Linked DNA regions of Homo sapiens. The protein of the gene in region 3 interacts with the protein of the main gene of each other region in a pairwise test. Each region holds a gene or a part of one and is shown on either strand. Other genes may lie near its edges. The genes, in order: TPM2, CABP5 and ZNF229.

Evidence for each region.
Region 1: the proteins of ZNF229 (region 3) and TPM2 interact in binary tests that used the Homo sapiens proteins (3 or more experiments, as listed by UniProt).
Region 2: the proteins of ZNF229 (region 3) and CABP5 interact in binary tests that used the Homo sapiens proteins (3 or more experiments, as listed by UniProt).

The regions. Positions count from the first base shown.
Region 1 is NC_000009.12:35,686,819-35,694,406, forward strand, and holds the start of TPM2 (tropomyosin beta chain), read right to left. Parts: upstream 3,108-7,588; 5' UTR 3,000-3,107; coding exon 2,886-2,999; intron 2,454-2,885; coding exon 2,328-2,453; intron 1-2,327. UniProt on the Homo sapiens protein: Binds to actin filaments in muscle and non-muscle cells. Plays a central role, in association with the troponin complex, in the calcium dependent regulation of vertebrate striated muscle contraction.
Region 2 is NC_000019.10:48,034,009-48,041,115, forward strand, and holds part of CABP5 (calcium-binding protein 5), read right to left. Parts: intron 6,741-7,107; coding exon 6,597-6,740; intron 5,310-6,596; coding exon 5,200-5,309; intron 355-5,199; coding exon 207-354; intron 1-206. UniProt on the Homo sapiens protein: Inhibits calcium-dependent inactivation of L-type calcium channel and shifts voltage dependence of activation to more depolarized membrane potentials. Involved in the transmission of light signals.
Region 3 is NC_000019.10:44,438,461-44,445,567, forward strand, and holds part of ZNF229 (zinc finger protein 229), read right to left. Parts: intron 6,707-7,107; exon of another isoform or gene 4,565-6,706; 5' UTR 4,388-4,564; coding exon 4,354-4,387; intron 4,162-4,353; coding exon 4,103-4,161; intron 1-4,102. UniProt on the Homo sapiens protein: May be involved in transcriptional regulation.

The DNA.
Region 1 (7,588 bases), on a different chromosome or scaffold from region 3:
TACTCAGCCCCTGGGCTTGCAGTAGGAGGCAAAACCATGGAGGTTTTGGAAAAAATCCATAAAAACTGGTCAAACACTGAGAAAAAGGGCAGAGCAAGGCGAGCGCCAGTAAAGGAAAATGAGAGGAGCAGGGCAGCCACGTGTTAAGAGCATCGGCTCTGAGTCAGATTGTCTTTGAGCCACGGCTCAGCCACTCAACACCTGTGTAACTGTGGGCAACTTATTTAGCCTCTCTAAGCTTCAGTTTCCTCCTTCACAAGTTGGAGTTAACAATAACAGTTCCTCCTTCTTAAGGCTGTTCTGAGATAATCCACTGCTTTTAATACTCAGTTAATCAACAGGACCTTCGGTGAGACTCATAAAACTAAACAGGTTCTCTTACTCCATGCTAGATCCACTGAATTGGGATGTGTAGGGCGGGGGCTTGGGAATCTTCTCTTTTTTTTTTAAAGCCCCCGAGTGATTCTGATGATAAGCCAAGTTTGGGAAATTGTAAAATAACATGCAGAAAGCACTGAGTACATTGCCTGCACAGGGTCCACATTCCATAAATATTAGGTTATCCCCTTTCTCTGTCAAAAACAAGGACACAGAGACCCTGAGATTTCAGAGTGGAAAGGAGAGAGGACCTGTGTAGGGAAAGGAGGTGGGGGGAGGGGCTGGGGGCAGCACTTGGACACAGCATAGGAAGCAGGTCCTTGGTCGGACTGTAGGGCAGGAGAAACAGCACCATATATAGAGAGTAGATGGTAGCTTGTCTTCCAGGTGCTGAAGGCACCTGGAGCTTGGCCACCTAGAGTGACAAGAGCCCATCATGGGCACAGGGCCGGATGACAGTGTGGAAGCATTCTGGGGACAGCATTGGGGGTTGGGAAGAATCACTGTGGGGGACATTGGAGTACTACCCTAGAGAGAGGTGAGACTGTAAAAGAAAAACTCTGCATGATGGTGGGGTGACAAAAGACTCTGGAAAGTTTGGGAAGTCCTGGGGTCCTCATCATGGGACTGATATGTGCCATTTCCTGCCTCTCAAGCTCTTCCCAGTTACGGGGGCGGCTCTCTAACCACAGGACAGGCACTACTGTCCCCATTAGAAAAATGGGAAGCAAGAGAGAGGGAGAAACTGAGGCACCATGTAAGTTGAGTGCTGTGTTCAAGGTCACCAGGAAGCTTGGGCAGTCTTTCCTATCTGCTCCTGGTGCTGCGGCTCTGCCTCCCCAGCTCTGTCCCTGTCCCCCCTGCCCCTCCAGCCCCCACCAGCAACTTGGGTTTCCAATCTTGCCTCCAGCTGCACTGGGCCTTGGTTATTTATAGAGTGTCAGATGCCCAGGGTTGTCTGTGCTAGCAGCTGCAGGTCAGCTCCCTCCCAAGTGCCAGGACTGGTGGAGAACCAAAACTGGAGGCTGGAGGTCACAGAAGCCCAACCCCTGGGGGGCTGGGAACATGAGCAGTCGACACAAACAGCTATGTCATCTCTGATGTTCAGACCATGCTTTATGCTAATCTAACCATAGGTTCATCTTAAAACAATCCTGGGTGGAAGGAAGATGGGGAAACTGAGGCAGAGAATGGGGAAACTACCACCACACCAAAGCCATATGGCCATTCTCCTACCTTAAGCTGGGGGTTGGGAATGGCAGGAAGTGAAGTCTGGTTGGGGTTGTGGGGTGGGCAGAGAAATCTCAGGGTAAATGACCTGCCAAGGTAGCTGCTTTGGCATTTGTGGCCCTGTCCCTCTGCCCTGTGGCCTGGCATGGTCTCCAGGCTGACAGCTTAATGAGGGTAAATGAGGAGCCATTAGAACCTGAGCTGGGGCCCCAGGGCACAGCAGGGCTGCTGAAGCCAGAGGTCAAGGCCAGGGAATTTCTAATGGCCCCTTAGGGTTGTAACTCAAGTGGGGTCTCATCTCTGGATCCCTCTCCCTCCTCCTGCAGGCTAGTACCTCACATCCACATCCCCCCATCCCCAAACGGCTGCAGTCTCCTCTCCAATTTCAGCTGGAGGATTAATTGAGGTAGATGGTAAATTCTTATACCTTCCACCCCCACAATGACTCATTGCTTGATCACTGTACATTCTAAAAGCTGGAACCAAACAGAATTACAGGGCTAAGTCCTCTGGGGGAAGTGGTAGGTGGTTTTGATTTATCCACTGTCTTGGATTACTTGTGTAAGTTTACCCTAGCCCTGGTTACTGAGATGAAACCATTTCTCTCCTGGCGCTGGGGACATAAGGGGATAAGGTGCCCCAATCCTCTTATTCCCATACCCGGGGGGCCCCTTCCCAGAGCCCTAACTCCTCCCATTGTCCCCCAAGTCCACACTCACATCAGTGGCCTTCTTCTCGGCCTGCTCCAGTTTCTCCTGGGCCTCCTTCACGGATTCAGAATACTTTTCCACCTCATCCTCTGTCCCCTTCAGCTTCTTCTGGAGGGCCTGCTGCTCCTCCTCCAGCTGGGACAGAGGGGACTTGGTCAGCCAGGCTGGGAGGGGGCCCAGGCCCAGAATGGAGACGCGGTGTGTGTAGGGGCGCTACTAAGATTTGGAGGCTACTGGGATGGAAGCGGAATAACATAAAAGGGACAGTACAGTCAAGGGTACTGGTGGGACCCGTTGAGGGTACAGAGAAAACTTCAGGCCCCAAGGAGCAGGACCAACCGCGCTCTGCAAAGGCAGAGTGGAAACCAGGGGCCTGGGGCTTCCCCAGGCTATTGTAGGGGAGAGAAGCGGCTCTGGCGAAGGCCCTGAGGGTACTGCGAAGGCCCAGCCCCCACCCTGGGTGAGAGAGAGCCTTGGCGGGCAGGCCCGGGGCTGGGGGACCCATGGCAGCGGCCCACCCTTGCCCTAGGCGCGGGGAGAGCAGGCTGCACTGGGCCCGGCCCTAACCTGCTTGCAGCGGTCCTCAGCTTGCTTCTTGTCGGCTTCGGCCTGCTCGGCGCGGTCGATGGCGTTCTCCTTGTCCAGCTTCAGCATCTGCATCTTCTTCTTGATGGCGTCCATGGCTGCGGTGGGGGGTGGGCCGGCCGGCAGGCGGTGAGGACCGGACGGACTGGGCTGGGTGAGCGGACTGGGTGCACCGGTGGCAGGCGAGGAGGACGGAGCGGGACTGGGACGTCCCGGCCACGCGGGCGCCTAAAAGGCGGGGAGGGACCGGGCGGGGCCGGCAACCAGGACCCTCCCCCACCTCGGCCCAAACCTTGTAGGGGCAGAAGCACGGCCCGGCCGGGGGGTGCGGCCGCCCCCTTCGCCCACCCACTGGGGACCGCCTCCCTTGGGGTCCCGCCCCCATCCCCCTCTTCCCTGCCAGCCGTCGGAGGAAAAAGTGGCCGACGGTCGGCTGGAAAAACCCCGGCGATGCGAAGGGGAGGGGACCCTTGGGCTGGGGGCTCCGTGCTTCCTCTGAGTGACAGCCGGACCCAGTGGCAGCTGCGGCTGGGGCCCCTGGGGCTATTTCGGGGCGTGAGCTCACGGCAGCTGCCCGGGCGCAGGGACCGGCGTGCCCCCCCTCAGCTGCAGCAGCCGCTACCCTTAATTTAGAAGTTTCCTGCAAATCCCCCCGGATTAAATGTCTCTCGGGAGGCGGAGCTCCTCGGCAGTTTGAGTGCCTCAGTTTACCCTGAGTCCCTCTAGGTTTGCGTTATCGACGTGGTGGTAGTAGCGGAGTCTCATCGGGAGCTTGGGGAAACTGAAGCAGGAAGCGAGCCCAGAGCCCCGGTCGCGGTGGGGAGTGTGGCCGGGCTTGCTGCCCCCAGGACCGGCCTGACCTCTCATCCCCTCGCCTCCCCTCCCAGCCCCTGCCCCTGGAGCCAGGCCCTTCCTGCGAGCACCCGGCGGCTCAGGACCCAGCTCCCCGCCCCGCCCCCCACGTGCCCCGCATATTTTCCACGCGGCTGCGGCCAGGCTGGTCACCGCGCGTTCCCCGCCCCCGCTCCCACCCGGACGCGTCCCGAGCCCCTCCGCTCCCCGCCCCTGGCTCCGCCTGGCCCCACTCCCCTCCGCGCGCCTTCCCTCTTCTCCCCCGCTCCCCGCGGACGCTCCTCTCTTTCCCAGTGGGCCAACTTTATGCTGAAATTTCTTTTCTGCCCTTTTTTGGGATGTTTCCCCATTGGGAGGCGGAGCCGGGCTGCGGCGGGGAAGGCGGAGGGCGAGGGGAAGAGTCACTGAGCTGCGGGGCATAGGGGGTCCGGGGCGAGGTGCCTTCTCCCACCCAGGCCGCCAAACCAGCGCCGGAGCCGGGTCGTGGGGTCTGGGAGTCGGAGGCGCGAGGCGCGAGGGTGTTTGTTTTCGTTTTTCCCTGGGGTGGGGTGGGGGGAAAGGAAGTGGAGAGCCGCCGGGAGGAGGGGGAAGGGGAGGAGAGAACAAGCGGAGGAAGCCGGGAGGGAGCTGCTAGCCTCGCCCCCACCCTCCAGTCATAGAGGGGCGGGAGGCCTGGATTTTGCAGTGGGCTGGGGACCGTGGGAACCCGAGGCCGCTGGCCGGGGCGGTGGGGAGGTGGCGTGGAAATGCATTCAGATCTGTTTAGCTGCCTGCTAGCCACACGGAGAGCAACCCTGGCCTGACCTCGCAGTGTTCCTCTAACTCCGTGGAAGACGCCTCATCCACCAGTAGCCTATGCTAGACCACTGGGTATCCCCTGCCCTTCGCGTCTCACAACCACCTAATCCTGGAGAGGCTGCCTTCTACCAAGGAGGTTCCTCCTCGGGTCGGTCTGGGCTGGCCTCTGGCCGCGCCTTATGTTTTCTTCAGTCTGTTTTGTAGTCTTACTTCTAGTTCCTCAACTCATTCATTCATTTGACTGTCCCATGACATTGTTGTCAAATATCTTTTTAAAAGTTAATGCGAATATTATCTAAAATTCTCCAAAACCCCTCCCTAATCCCTGTCCCCCCACCTTTTTTGAGACGGGAGCTTGCTAGATTGCCCAGGCTGGTCTTGAACTTATGGGCTTAAGTGATCCTCCCGACTCAGCCTCCTGAGTAGCTGGGATTACAGGCGTGCGGGCACCCTGCCTGTTTTGAGGAGAAAAAAAAAATCCACATTTCTTAATATGGTATAGAAGGCCCGTTGTTTTGGCTGTTGCCTGCCTCTCTGGCCTCATCTCCTTCCATGCCCAACCTCACCCCCAGTATTCATACTTGTACCTCATGCTGCATTCATAATGAGCTACGTGCAGGAGCTGGAAATAGCCATACTTTTCTTAAAGCTTCCACAGTTTATGCATTCTGTTCTCTCTCCCTAAAATGCCCATCCCCTTGGCTGATTCCTGGTGGCCTTTAAGACTCAGTAAGTGTCAGCTTTTCTGGGAAGCCTTCCCTGGCCACTTCTCTTCCCACCGCCTCACCTAATAGGTGCGTGTTCTTGGTGCGGGCTCTCACCCTCATCCTAGTCCCATGGTATAACTGTTCTTATACCGGTTTGGCGCCTCCGCCGGTCTGTGAGTCCTCAACAGAAACGACTGTTCTCAATTCTGAATCCCCAAGGCCTATCACAGCACCAGGCATAGAGTTGGCACTTCATGAACATTTGCCAGATGAGTTTTTTATGTACCAGTTTCTGGGTACTTATCAAATATACTAATACGGTGTGGGTCTTTTGGTCTTAGAACCCATTACACTCTTAAAAAGTATTGAAGACCCCCAAACAGCTTTTTTGTTGAAGTGGGTTATATCTACCAATAGTTGCCATATTAAAATGAAACTTGAGAAAAATTTTAAATATGTATCAATTCGTTAAAAATAACAAAAATAAACTCATTACACATTAATCATGTTAACATAATGTTCTAAATGAAAGATAACTATATTCCCATTCCCCGAATTAATGAGAGTATGGAAATTATTTTACATTTTTACGAATCTCTTTACTCTCTGGCTTCCAAGGGGACAGCTGTATTATCAATATCTCCTTCCATATTTGATCTGTTGCTATATGTTGGTTACTGAGACATATGAAGAAAATCCTGTCTCACAACAGATATGCAGTTGGAAAGATTTATTTATTATTTTATTTATTTATTTTGAAACAGTCTTGCTCTGTTGCCCAGGCTGGAGTGCGGTGGTGCGATCTTGGCTCACTGCAACCTCCGCTTCCCAGGTTCAAGCAATTCTCCTGTCTCAGCCTCCTGAGTAGCTGGGACTACAGGCATGCACCACCATGCCTGACTAATTTTTGTATTTTCAGTAGAGACAGGGTTTCACCATGTTGGCCAGGCTGGTCTCGAACTCCTGACCTCAAGTGATCCGCCTGCCTTGGCCTCCCAAAGTGCTGGGCTTACAGGCGTGAACCACCACGCCTGGCCTATTTATTATTATTATTATTTGTTTATTTTTTTGAGACAGAGTCTCGCGCTGTCACCCAGGCTGGAGTGCAGTGGGGCGATCTCAGCTAACTGCAACCTCCGCCTCCCAGGTTCAAGTGATTCTCCCGCCTCAGCCTCCCGAGTAGCTGGGACTACAGGCATAAGCCATCACACCCAGCTAACTGTTGTATTTTTTGTTTGTTTGTTTTGTTTTTTTGAGACGGAGTCTCGCTCTGTTGCCCAGGCTGGAGTGCAGTGGCACAATCTCGGCTCACTGCAACCTCCGCCTCCCAGGTTCACGCCATTCTCCTGCCTCAGCCTCCCAAGTAGCTGGAACTATAGGCGCCCGCCACCATGCCCAGATAACTTTTTATATTTTTAGTAGAGACGGGGTTTCACTGTGTTAGCTAGGCTGGTCTTGAACTCCTGAACTCAGATAATCTGCCTGCCTTGGCCTCCCAAAGTGCTGGGATTACAGGCGTGAGCCACCATGCCGGGCCTGGCATATTTATGTTTTTTTGAGACAAGGTCTGGCTCTGTCACCCAGGCTGTAGTGCAGAGACACAATCACGGCTTGGCTCACTGCAGCCTTGACCTTCTGGGCTCAAGTGCTCTCTCCGCCTCAGTCTCCTCCAGTAGCTGGGACTACACATGTGCACCATCATACCCGGCCCTTTTTTTTTTTTTTTTAAATAGAGATGGTGTGCCACTATGTTGCCTAGGTTGGTCTCAAACTCCTAGGCTCAAGCTACCCTCCTGCCTCAGCCTCCCAAAGTGCTGGAATTACAGGCCTGAGCCACTGTGCCTGGCCGATAATTGGCAGTTTCTTAAGGGGCAGTTGCAATGTAGAATGTGAAACCATATCAGTGACCTTTTTGTACTGTTAAACTAAAATCCGTTGTTTTGGCCAAGTGTGGTGGCTCACGCCTGTAATCCCAGCACTTTGTGACGCCAAGGTGGGTGGATCACCTGAGGTCAGGAGTTCGAGACCAGCCTGGCCAACATGGTGAAACCCTCCCGTCTCTACTAAAACTACAAAAATTAGTCAGGTGTGGTGGTGGCACACGCCTGTAATCCCAGCCACTCGGGAGGCTGAGGCAGGGGAATCACTTGAACCTGCGAGGCGAAGGTTGCAGTTAGCCGAGATTGCACCACTGCACTCCAGCTTGGGTGACAGAGCAAGACTCTGTCTCAAAAAAAAAAAAAAAATCCGTTTTTCTGAACTGCACCTGATTGGATCTTTTACCCATGCATAATTTTGTAACACCGTGCATTCGTCATATGGAAAATA
Region 2 (7,107 bases), 3.6 Mb from region 3:
AGAAGTGAGCGACACCCAGCTCTTTGAAATGAATAGCCTGGGAAGAAAGGGACAGAACAAATGCTTCCAAAACCTGCCACCCGCTTCCATTCTCAAACTTGGAGAGGAGTGAGAAGGAGTGGCCAACTTGGAAAATCTGACAGTGAGTTGGAAGTGGATTCCTGCGGTGGCTGCCCCCGCTCCCCACCACGCCCCGTCAATGTCACCTTCAAAGTCAACTGTGCCGTCTCCATTAACATCAGCCTCCCGGACAACCTCAGAGATCTCCCGGGGGGTGAGCCGCTCCCCCAGGAGTCTCTGCATGGCCTGCTGTAGCTCCACCAGGGTGATCTCCCCATCTCCATTCGTGTCAAACTGAATAGAAGCAGAAATAGATTATATCAGCAATGACAATGATGATAGCCACGAGATGATGGAGTTTACCTATCGCTTACTGTGGGTCAAGCACTGAGATAAAAGCTTTGGGAATGTGAGCCACTAGAACGTCAGCTCCAAAAGACAGTTTTGTTCTGTTTTTTTTTTTCTTTTTTTCTTTCTTTTTTTTTTTTTTTTTATTTGAGACAGTCTCACCCTGTCACCCAGGCTGAAGTGCAGTGGTGCAATCTCAGCTCACTGCAGCCTTCACCTCCTGGATTCAAGCGATTCTCGTCCCTCAGCCTCCCGAGTAGCTGGGATTACAGGCGCGCACCACCAAACCTGTTTAATATTTGTATTTTTAGTAGAGACAGGGTTTCACCATGTTGGCCAGGCTGATCTTGAACTCCTGACCTCAGTTGATCCACCTGCCTCAGCCTCCTAAAGTGCTGAGATTACAGGCTTGAGCCACTGTGCCCGGCCGAAACTTTTTTTTAATGAGACGGGGTCTCACTATTTTGGCCAGGTTGGTCTTAAAATCTTGGCCTTAAGCAACCCTTCCACCTTGTCCTTCCAAAGTGCTAGGCTTACAGTCCTGAGCCAAAGTGCCCAGCGATACATTTAAAACTTACTTTTTAGGTGATTTTTGAAACATACATTATTATTTACTATAGTTATCCTGCTGTGCAATAGATCTCAAAAGTTATTCCTCCTGTCTAACCAAAACTTTGTACCCTTTGACAAGCAACTGTCCATTCCTTCTCTGTGGCTCCCCAGCCTCTGCTAACCACCTTTCTTTTTATTTGCATGAGTTCAATTTTTTAAGATTCTGCATGTAACATCATGTGGTATTTGTCCTTTTGTGCCTGGCTTATATAGCTTAGAATAATGTGCTTCATGTTTATTCATGTTGTTGTAAATGATAGAGTTTCCTTCTTTTTAAAAGCTGAATATGCCGGACTCAGTGGCTCATGCCTGTAATCCCAGCACTTTGGGAGGCCAAGGCGGGTGGATCACCTGAGGTCAGGAGTTCGAGACCAGCCTGACCAACATGGAGAAACTCCGTCTTTACTAAAAATACAAAATTAGCCAGGCGTGGTGGCGCATGCCTGTAGTCCCGGCTACTCGAGAGGCTGAGGCAGGAGAATCGCTTGAACCTGGGAGGTGGAGGTTGTGGTGAGCCAAGATTGTGCCATTCTACTCCAGCCTGGGCAACAAGAGCAAAACTGTCTCAAAAAAAGAGAAAGAAAATTTTAAATGACCCATGCTGCTTACATTGTATTTATTTTGGATGACACAGCTGTAGGCTGAGGAAGCTGCAAGTTAACAAGTGCCGTAAGGCAGGAAGGTGTACTTGAGGAAGAGGCAGAAGTGGGGAGTGTTTAGGGAGGCGTGAGCTGGGGAGAAATGAGCATGAAATAGACAAGGTCTCAGTGTTGCAGAAGGCAGGGCCCAAGTACGTAGGGGCTTGTGTGTCATGGGACGTTGTCAGGATTTGGTTCTGAGTAAGACAAGAAGCCACTGGAGAATTTTAAGCAGGGGAGTGACCAGATCTGATATACATTTTAAAAGAATGTGAGCATGAAACCCTGTTGTGTAGAGAACAGACCACAGTAGGACCACGATGGGAGCCAGGAAACCAATTAGAGGGCCGCCATGATCATCCTGGTAGGAGATGGTTGTGGTTTGAGCCAGTTAGCACCAGCAGAGCTCAAGAAGGAGAGTTCACTCCCCGATGTTTTGGAAATTGAACGTACTAGACTTTCTGGTAGACTAGTTAAGGGTGTGCAGGGCAGAGCTTTGGAGGCAGTTCATTAATTCAACACATATGTATCCATATTGCTAAAAAAAAATGTGTCAGTAGTGCCCATGTGGAAGGCACCGTTCTTGGGACTGAGCACGGAGCAGCAAGCAAGACACTTAGAAATACTTGTCTTCTGTACCTGGCTTATTTCACCCAGCATACTGTCCTCCAGGTTCATTTGTGTTGTTGTGTGGGGCAGGATTTCCTTCTTTTGTAAGGCTGAATATTGCATTTAAATATATACCACGCAGAAGGAGAAATACTGCATGATTCCACTTACATATGAAGTACTTAAAATAACCACACTCATAGAAGCAGAGAGTAGAAGGATAGTTGCTGGGGGTTAGGAGGACAGGGAAATGGGGAGATATTGTACCATGGGTATAAAGTTTCAGTTACGCAAGATAGGTTCTAGAGATCTGCTGTGTGGCATTGTGCCTATAATTAATAATACTGCATAATGACAAATATTGCTTTTAATGGCAAAATCACAATTACTTTTGCATCAATCTAATAACTATGGGCAAAAGACGTGAACAGCCATCTCTCTAAAGAGGACAAATGGGCAAAAGACGTGAACAGCCATCTCTCTAAAGAAGACAAATGGGCAAAAGACGTGAACAGCTATCTCTCTAAAGAAGACAGACAAATGGCAAACAAGTTCGTGAAAAAAATGCTCAGCATCACTAATCATTTGGGAAATTTAAATTAAAACCACAATGAAATATCACCTCACATCTGTTAGGATGGCTACTGTTAAAAAGATGAATAATAACAAGTGTTGGTGAGGATGTGGATAAAAGGGAACCCTGGTACACTTTTGCTGGGTATGGAAATTAGCACAGCTATTATGGAAAATGGTATGGAGGTTCCTTAGAAAATTAAACCTAGAGCTGCCATATGACCCAGCAATACCACTTCTGGGTATGTATCTAAAGTAATTGAAATCAGTATATCAAAGGGATGTTTGCACTCCCCTGCTCATGGCAGCACTATTCACAATAGCCAAGGTATGGAAGCAACCTGTGTCCATCAAAACAGAAGAGTGGATAAAGAAAACATGGCATAAGTACACAATGGAATACTATTCAGCTTTTTTTTTTTTTTTTTTTTTTTTTTGAGGTGGAGTTTCGCTCTTTTTACCCAGGCTGGAGTGCAGTGGTGCGATCTTGGCTCACTGCAACCTCTGCCTCCCGGGTTCAAGCGATTCTTCTGCCTCAGCCTCCTGAGTACTTGGGATTACACGCATGTACCACCACGCCTAGCTAATTTTGTATTTTTAGTAGAGACGGGGTTTCTCCATGTTGGTCAGGCTGGTCTCAAACTCCCGACCTCAGGTGATCCACCCACCTCAGCCTCCCAAAGTGCTGGGATTACAGGCATGAGCCACTGCACCTGGCCTTAAAATTTTCTAGTAGTGACGTTTAAAAAAATGTTAAAAGGAACAAATGAAACTAATTTTTAATATTCTCTTTTATTTGACACAATATATCTAAAGTGTTATCCTTTCATCATGTAATCCACTTAAAAATTATTAATTTAGCTATGTAAGTAGCATTCTTTTTATACACACTGGATTTCATAAGGCAGTAAGTTCTAAGTTCTTAGTAGGTGCTTAGCATGCTTAATTAGGATACTTAGCCTAGAAGTTTACTTAAGTATACAAGTACGTTATGCTAATTATATTAGCATACTAAGTCTTAATACAGTGTTCACGTTACACTTACAGCACTTCTCAATCCAGACAACTTTTTCTTTTTGTTTTGAGATGGAGTTTCACTCTTATAACCCAGGCTGGAATGCAATGGTGCGATCTCAGCTCACTGCAACCTCTGCCTCCCAGGTTCAAGCAATTCCCTGCCTCAGCCTCCCAAGTAGCTGGGATTACAGGCGCCCACCACCATGTCTGGCTAAATTTTTTTGCATTTTTAGTAGAGACGGGGTTTCAGCATCTTGGCCAGGCTGGTCTTAAAGTCCTGACCTTGTGATCCACCTGCATCGGCCTCCCAAAGTGCTGGGATTATGGGTGTGAGCCACTGAGCCCGGCCAGCTGTAGATCTTTATAAGAAGCTGGGGGAGGCACTTGCACAGCCAATAGGTGGAGGCCTCCTAGGATTTGAACCCATGTTTGCCTGGTTCCAAATCCTTTGCTCCCAAACACTCTACTACTCTTTATTTTCACCTTGTGTTGCTGAAAGCTCTCAGAACGAGAAGGTATTTTATCAGGGGATATAAGCAAGTCTGTTATTCTCACTGGGTCTGATATTTTTTAGTATGTCTGCAGCAAGTGGTTCGTACCAGATGACCACTTTGCATTCCCTTCTGGGATCTCAAATTCTTGGATTCTTCCTGTTACAGGCACTAAGAATAGAGGCCCTGGCCAGGCACGGTGGCTCATGCCTGTAATCCCAGCACTTTGGGAGACCGAGGCAGGTGGATCACTTGAGGTCAGGAGTTCGAGACCAGCCTGGTCAACATGGTGAAACCCCGTCTCTACGAAAAATACAAAAATTAGCTGGGTGTGGTATCGCGCACCTGTAATCCCAGTTACTTAGGAGGCTGAGACAGGAGACTGGCTTGAACCCGGGAGGCAGAGGTTGTAGTGAGCCGAGATTGCACCATTGCACTCCAGCCTGGGGACAACAGTGAAACCCCGTCTCAAAAAAAAAAAGTCCTAACATTTATTCTAGAGATGGCAGGATCTTGGATAAGATTTATAATCTTCATGAGCCTCACTTTTCTCATCTGTTTAATTGGGATACATGACTGCTTGCTTACTCCTAATGTGTTTGTGTGCGTGTTTTTGTTTTTGTTTGTTTGTTTTTTTGAGGATTAAATCAGATAAAGTATACAGAGGCATTGATCCATTGCAGGTGTTTGGAATACGTTATTTTTCTTCCCTATTTATTGATCCCACCATGGCTGGAAAAAAAAAGGTGGGGGCCTGGTTGGTGGGTGCTGTCCATGGCATTGGCTAATTACAGGCAGACCTCAGAGGGTCTGCCTCTACCATCACCAGCACCATGACACTGTTAACTCACCTCCTTGAAGGCATCCCGCATCTCCTGGACACCGATCATCCCAGCTGTTTCTGCAAGCAATTTGGGGGTCATCAGCTCCACAAAGTCATCAAAGTCTACACGGCCACCCACTGAGGAAGATGGCACAGGATTAGCGAGACCCCACAAGCCCTGGCCTTCCATTACCTCACTTTGTGCTTCGAGTCAGTTAGATCAGCTCCCTTCTCCCTGCCCTATAAGAGCCGTCTTTGACTTCCTCCCTCCAGCAGCTAACTCCAAGCTCCAAACTCATGTCCCTCTAGCCTGAACAGGAGTGGATAGGGTGTGGTATGGTGGAAGTAACTGCCTGTGTGACTTTCAGACAGTTGGTTAAGATGTTTCTCCTCCTCTGTAGACCTGTACAAAGAGGAGCATGAATTAAATGAGCATACAATTTTTTTTTCAGATATGAATACTATCATTACCTTGAATTCAACCTTGTTTAGTTCGTTACATGCCCAGAAGCAAACCCAATAGCTTTTTTTTTTTTTTTTTTTTTTTTTTTTGAGACAGAGTCCCACTCTGTTGCCAAGGCTGGAGTGCAATGGTGCGATCTCGGCTCACTGCAACCTCTGCCTCCCGGGTTCAAGCGATTCTCGTACCTTAGCCTCCCGAGTAGCTGGGATTACAGGTGCACGCCATCACGCCTGGCTAATTTTTTGTATTTTTAGTAGAGACGGGGTGTCACCATGTTGCCCATGCTGTTCACAAACCCCTAACCTCAGGTGATCTGCCCACCTCAGCCTCCCAGAGTGCTGGAATTACAGGTTACAGGTGTGAGACACTGCGCCCAGCCTCAATAGGAATTTTATTCTAGCTAAAATCTAAAAATCAGTTATGATCTCCATCCAAAAATCCATCCATCCTTTTTGCAGCTGTATTCACCAACATTAGCTCCAGCTCCAAGTTTGTTTCCAACATCCAATACAGCTCCAATCTCGTGCTCCACTGATGAATCTTAGTGGTGATAGTAATAACTACCTTTAATAAGAATTTACTGGAGGCTAAGACTTTAACTGCATCAGCATCTTTATCTCTTCCTTCTCTTCCTTTCCACAGTCCCATGAGGTAAGGAGAGAGGCATCTTCCTCTATAGATGAGGAAATGGAAACTGAAGAGTAGCGGATAACTTCACTTTTCAAAATGACTGTAATTAGTAAATAATAGAACTGAGATTTGAACCCAGACCTATCTCTAAAAGCTTTTAACCACTTCAAATGCTGCCTTCCTGAGTCGAATCTGACCTGTTTTCTTCCAGACTTCTAGTCCCTCTCATCCTCCTCTCCACCCCCAACTCTACTCTTAACCTCTACATCCTTCCCAATTCTGCCCTGATCCCTTCCCTAACCCCGGCCATCCCTCCCATTCCCTGGACTCACGGTTCATGCGGATTTGCTGGCCGAGCTCAATCAGTTCCATCTCCGTGGGCATGTAACCCATCGTCCTCATGAGATTCCCCAGATCCTTACAAGAGATGAACCCATCTCGGTCCTTATCGAACTCAAGAAATGCTTCCCGCAGCTCTGAAAGTTAAGAGAGAACTTTGGGGGAACTTGAAGCAGTCAGTGGGGAAGAGTGGCATCTCTTGAAGCTATCAATGAGGCTCCAACTAGAGACTCCTTAAAGGAGCGTACATTAGAAACAAAACAAAACAAAACAAAAAAACCAAGGCCGGATGTGGTGGCTCATGGCTGTAATCCCAGCACTTTGGGAGGTCGAGGTGGGTGGATCACCTGAGGTGAGGAGTTTGAGGCCAGACTGACCAACATGGCAGAACCCCATCTCTACTAAATACAAAAAAATTAGCTGGGCATGGTGGCTCATGCCTTTGATCCCAGCTACTAGGGAGGCTGCCTCAGCCAAGGCAGAAGAATCGCTTGAACCTGGGAG
Region 3 (7,107 bases):
TTAACAGTTTACAACGAAGTGTGTGACGCTGTGAAATAGATATTTGGTCTCTGTGGCATATAACTCCAAAAGCCCTTAGAAACTCCACCGTGATGTCTTTTTCTATGCTAATGGGTTGACTAGTAGCTGGCAGCTGGCAGGTAGCTTCAGGATGGGGCTGCTTACTGGAAAGAACAAGGAAGGATTAGAGGATTAGACTTATAGTACTTCCCCCTCCCCCAACCTCCAGTGAGGGGAGAGGAGCTGAGGGTGAAGTTGATCACTGGTGCCTACCTAATGAAACTTTCATAAAAACCTAAGAGGACCAGGTTCAGAGAAATTCTGGGAAGGTGACATGCCCAGAGAGGGCATGGAAGCTCCATGCCCCTTACCCCATACCTTTGCCCCATGCATCTCTTCATCTGTATCCTTTTGTGATATCCTTTATAATAAACCAGTAAACATAAGTGTTTCCCTGAGTTCTGTGAGCTGCTCTAGCAAATTAATCAAACCCAAAGAGTGGGTTGTGGGAACCCCAACTTGCAGCTGGTTGGTCACAAGTTCTGGAAGCCTAAACTTGCAACTGGTGGGAGGGAGGAGCAGTCTCTTGTGGGACAGAACCCTCAACCTGTGGGATCTGACACTACCTCCGGGCAGACAGTGTCAGAATTGAACCGAAGGGCACCCAGCAAAACTGCCACAAAACTGATTGCTTACTTGAGGAGAAACCCACACACATTTGGTCACAGAAGTCTTCTGCCTGTGATTATTGTTGCTGAGTGTCAGAATACAAACAGCACTTAGAGTTTCAGTAGCTTTTTCCACACTAAGTATACCCCTTTGGGCCAGCAATATTCAGACATTTACATCATAGAATTTAAAGATTAAAGAACAGGATGCAAAAATCACATGTGTTTGTACTGTTTGTAGTGCTAAAACTGGTAGTAATCAGAACTGAATATCTTATGGTAGTAAAATACACACTACATGGAAAGCATACATGTTTCCATTTCCTTTTTTTTGAGATGGAGTCTCACTCTGTCGCCCAGGCTGGAGTGCAGTGGCATGATCTCAGCTCACTGCAACCTCCGCCTCCCAGGTTCAAGCGATTCTTCTGCCTTAGCCTCCCGAGTACCTGAGATTACAGGTGTGCGCCACCATGCCCGGCTAATTTTTTTACTTTTGGTAGAGACAGGGTTTCACCATGTTGGCCAGGGTGGTCTTGAACTTCTGGCCTCAGGTGATCTGCCCGCCTTGGCCTCCCAAAGTGCTGGGATTAGAGGTGTGAGCCACCATGCCCAGCCCCATTTCCTTTTTAAAAAGAAGGTAACATATATTTTCACATGACAAAGATATTGATGGATTCACACCTCTTTGTTAATGTTGGGCATATTAGCGAGGACAGTTGGGGGAACCTAATTTATTTCATTATAGACCTTGGTATGGTCTGTCTTCTACTAAATCTTTATTTTAAAAGTTATAATGAAATATATATAAACTAGTATTATTAACATGGCTGAGCTACAGAGGTTTAATACTATGAGTGAGTATGGCAGACAACCCAAAAACATCTCCATGGGAGTCCCACAGAGTCTCACAGTTGTAAACTGCACAGACCATCTTAACACACAGGACTCAAAAAGCTACACCCACTCAATTTTTGTGTAGGGGGGAGCTTGCTAGAAAAAGAATTAATCAGAAATTTTTTAAGTGTAAAAAAAATCGCAGCTAGGATTGGAAGAAAAAAACAACTTAGAGCTTAGCCTAAACAGATGAATGAACATCCAAGAAGAAAGAACTGTAAAACAGGACAGGATTCTGGAACACAGTGGAAAATGGCAAAAAGAAAGAAGAAAGAAAAGAAAAAGAAAAGGAAGAAGGAAGGAGAGAAAGAGAAAGAGAAAATAAAGTGAAAGAATAGGAAGGACAGATCCAGAAGTTACACCATTTATCCAGTAGGCATTCCAGGAAGACCAACTGGATTAAATAATAGTAATAATTGACATCAGGCACAAACAGAATTAATGCCCGAGAGAACAGAGCAAGGAAAATAAAGTGTGATCCATGAAAATGCCACACACCCAAGCATAAACACAACAGATGCTTCTAGAAAAAAATGACAAGAATGAATTTAGCTCACCAGAAGGTGAATGGAGAAGCCACAATACAAAGTCCTACACAAGACTTAATACAAGAAGAAAATGACACAACCTGTACTGAGTCCAGAAAGTGTGAATGAAGAATTTTAAGCCCTGGCAACTTGCAATTTGAACATAAAACCAACATTCTTTTTTTTTTTTTTGAGACAGGGTCTCGCTTTTTCACCCAGGCTGGAGTAGAGTGGCATGATCTTGGTTCACTGCAGCCTTGATTTCCCTGGGCTCAAGCAATCCTCCCACTTCAACCCCCAAGTAGCTGGGACTATAGGAATGCACCACCACACCCAGCTAATTTTTTAGTATTTTTGTAGAGACAAGATTTTACCATGTTGCCCAGGCTGGTCTCGAACTCCTGAGCTCAAGTGATCCGCATGCCTCAGCTTCCCAAAGTGCTAAGATTACGAGCCACTGCACCTGGCCCACAACATTCTTAAACTTGGAAAAATGCAGAGGATACTATAGCCAAGTCTTTGGCGTGGGGGAACAAAAAGACTGCATCCAAAGTCTTTGTAGATGAAATTGAGGCAACCAACAAATAAATTCAAGTAAGAAAGTTGTGGTAAAAGGAGAGGCGGTGAGCAATGACTTAAATACACAGAAGTGAGTCTCAACTGGGGGAACTTATGGTGACGAATCAGAAGATAACAATGACAATAACAATATAATAACAATCAGAAGATGGTAGGAAGTAAAAACGTGCTAATTGCTTCAACTTTCACAGCAGGAAGTAATCAATAATATTTAAAATTAAGGTACACAGTAAAAGAAGTGAATCAAATCTTCAAAATTATTTCACAATCTCTTTTCATAAAAAGAAAGGTTTAGAAAATAATGTTTCATGTGTTGAAAAAACATACTTAAAATTCTGCAATGGCTATGATTTTTTTCAGTTTAAAAGAAAATTAAGAAATATGTATATACTAAAGGATAGCCTATTTCCATATCCCTATATTTTCATTTACTTTATATCGCTTGATAGCAGCTTAGAATCTAGACAAAAGAACGAATGAAACTACAATTCACTAATTCAATAGATGAACATGGAATCCATATCACTATATGTGTGTGTACATATATATGTATATATATTTGTAGATATGTGTACATATATGTGTATATACACATTTGGCTGTTATGAATGATGCTGCAATTATCATTCTTTGCACATTTATTCTGACTTAGAAAAAATTCTTAGAGTGGGAAATGCTCGACCAGAATAAGGAGAACTTCTAGAAAGGCAGAAATACTCCTGCAGCTGTGTGGATGTACCCATTTCTCCATATCCCAGCTAACAGTGCATGTTGACCTTTCAAATCTTTGGCTGTCTGCTAGAATAATCATAAATCTTATTTCAATGTGTATCATTTTGATTAATAGAGGCTTATAGTCTTTTCATATGATTAGTGGGCATTAGTTTTTCTCTGCTCCCTTCCTGAACAAGAATGCTCAGGTCTTTATGCATAACCCTCTTCTGAAAATAAGGATATTAAAATTTTGTCATAGATGAAACTTTTCTAATATGTTTTTCTTTTTTTAACTTTGTGCATGGTATACTTTTGGTAGGGTCTACTACATGGAGAACATTACATCTATAAATGAATAACGTTCCACAGAGGAGAACAACCCAGGCAGCGATGATTCAGTATTTGGAGAGTCATCTCTCTGCTAATCTAGGCTTGGGCCTCTGCGTGAAGCTATTGCGGTGGCAGGAAGGCATAGCGGAAAGGTAGATTATCGAATCCAATTGACCTACCTGAGTTCAAATCCTGGATCCCCCATTCATTTCTTCATCTCTAAAACAGAATCATACTATCTGTCTCACATCACTATTTTGTGGATAAATGCAACGAGAAATGTATTCACCCAATACATTTTTCGCTCTTTTTCCTTTTACCGAGAAGGGACGTATGTTTTCTCTCTGATGCCTAAGGTGGTATTTCGGGAGAGAAAAGAAAACAACCCACCTGAGACATGATCTTCTCCTCCCTATCTTGGGAAATGGCTGAGGCTTGAGAATGAAGAGCTGTAGGAGGAGAAAGAGGCCATGAGGAGGAGTTGGTGCTGCCTGAAGCTCTAGATCATCTACCTGGTAGGAAGGTGCCCAGCTTTACAGACTGGTTTCTTCTCACTTGAGGAAATTCCTCAACATCCAACTTTTTCTCCTCCACACTCAGTTTGGATTCTCCCCCCACCCACCCCCTCTATTAGCTGTCACCTCTTTTCTCATGCCTTGAGGTCAAAGTCTCCATGGTCTCTTCTGCTAGGTTCTCTGCGAGCAGCAGCAACTGTATTTATTCTCTGGTTTTCCTAAGCTGGAGACGCAGAAGATCCAGGCCTTTTTCATTCCGGAAACTCTCCAAGCTCTGACAAGTTCCTGTCTCCACCTTTACTGTCCAGAGCGCGACTGCTTCCCATGGTCAGGGGACCTGTAGGTTCGGGAGGGAACTTTACTTAGTCCTTTCTTCTGGGCCCCAAGGCTGTGGTTCACATCCCCTGGATACTATTCATTCAGTAGTTTACAGGACATTTACTGAGTACTTGTTAGGTTTAGTCCCCTACTCTGAAGGGGCTCATAGTCCACAAAGCCAAGAGTGTTGCAGATGGGTAAGGACAGTCACAGAAGAGTCTGTGAGGAGGGTCCTGCAGCTAAATTCTCAGTAAGGCACAGGGCCCCTCAGAAGGGCAGAGAGACCCCACAAATATATGGGACCTGTGACCTGTGAAGAAACACCTGGAGAGGAAAAGCTTTATTAACGCAATACTGTTTGACTTGCAAAAAATAAAATACAATAAATCCCCATACTTAGGGATTATAGAAATCAGGATATAGATTAGAGCCATCTTTAGTCAGCGTTTTTAACTTTTTTTGTGCCATGGCCCCCCTTCACTAATCTGATGATACCTAAAGATCCCTACTGAGAATAAAGTTTTAAATGCATAAAATGAAATGCAAAGAATTATATGGAAATACAACCTTCAAAACTATTAAAACTCTGCATGGCTCACTGTGCAAGTATAGTGCCACTTTATTAATACATTCAATATAAACAATAAATTTAACTACAATTTCAAAAGAGTAATGAGCATAAACAATACTCTGAAATATTTGCACAAACCAGAATATGACATAAAAATATCTATGATGTATATGGATGACAAAGTCACAAGTACTGCTAATAATATTGTGGCTTAGCACCTATGTTCACAATGAAATGCTACTTGTGACTTAGACTAGTATAATTTTTTTCCCATTCAAATTCATGGAACTCCTGAGTTATGCTCATGGAGCCCAGGGCAAGAATTCCTTTTCAAAATTAAGCCTCTTCTGCCCCGCCCCACCCCCCAGACTGAATTAATTACTCTGGGATCCAGCAACACATGGTATAAATTGCTGGTTACCACCTTTCACACGGCCTCCATGGTCAGATCTCTAAGTCATCAAAATAATTGAGTCTTCTTTTTCTTTATTTACCTTTCATGGCTCTGGCACACGGGAAGCACTTAAGGGTCCTAAGCAATTCTATCAGCAGGAGGTGATGCACACAGATTGAACAAAACTCTTACAATCTGCTCAGAGCTACTCGGGAGGTAGTGCAAAGACAGTGGACATGAGTTTCCACCCTTCCCCACCTTGCCTGGCCTCTTTCCTCTTGAAATTCAAGTCTCAAGGTCAAGTTCAGACAAACAGATACACATACTTGGGCTGTCTACTCTAGGACACTCACTGGATTTTACTGCTTCAGGAACTCAAATCTCCTTCTTTCCTCTAACCATCTGTACCAGCCCTCTGCATGGCCCACAGTGACAAGCATCTTTCTCTCTCCCTCCCTTCATGCACTGCCCTGAACTGGGGATTGCCCTTTGACCCAGGTGTGGACAACCAGGCAACACGCTACCCTCCTACACAAAGGACAAAGGGAAGAGTAGAGGCCAGATCTGAAACAAGGCCTCCACCGCAATGCCACTTAAACTCAAACTTCAGGATCCTCTAGGACTGCGCTTTGCAAACTTCAGTATGTTTAAAAATCACCATGAGCAATGATGAAAACAGACTGCTAGAGTCCAGCTCCAAAGATTCTAATTCTGTATCTCTGCAGTAGAGCCCAGGAGTCTGTGTTTTAAACGTTTCCAGGGGATGCTGACAAAGTGAGTCCAGGGGCCACACCTGAAGCAAACTTGCTAAGTTACCCTCACTTCCTCTGACTGGCTGATTTTCAGGGTTTCCAGAGACTTCCGGTGGGTAAAAATTTTCCTTGTGCTTCCTCCTCCTATCCCTGAACTCTTCAGGTCAGGAAGCCTCAAGAGTCAGCACATAAAGTTCTCTATCTTCTTTCACTCCCTTGGTGAACATATCCAGCCTCAGGCCTTCAACACAATCTACACACTGATGACTCCATGGCAACCTGCCATCTCCACTCTTATGTCTAAAAAGCAACTCAAAAAACATGTTCAAAAGAAAAGTCCAGATTTGCCCCTAGAGGTACTTCTCTCCTTTGAAATGAAGAGGAAATATTCTAGTCATCCTTGATTTCTTCCTCGTACTCTACATCCAATCCATCAGCAAATACCTACAAATCAGAACCAGAATCAGATTATTCTTGCTGCCACCGTCCACACCATCATGTCTCACCTGCATTAACGTGACAGCCCCCTAAATGGCCTCTGCATTCCTACTCCTGTTCGTTTCAGTCTACTTCCTACACAGCAGCTGGAGTGATCTTTTAAAAATATAAACTCATATTCTTCTCTGGCCAAAACCATCATTTTACTCAAAACCTTGCACCAAGGTCCTTTCAATGGCCCAAAGACCTTACACTATCTTCCTTCCCAATATTCAGTTTCCCACTTATCCTCCCTCTTTCTCATTCTGCTCAGCTCTGGCTTCCTTGCTGTTCTTCACATGCCCTCATCACCGGGCCTTCGTGTTGTTCTCTTTGCCTTTTTCATCAGATGCCTGCAGGCCCCTCAC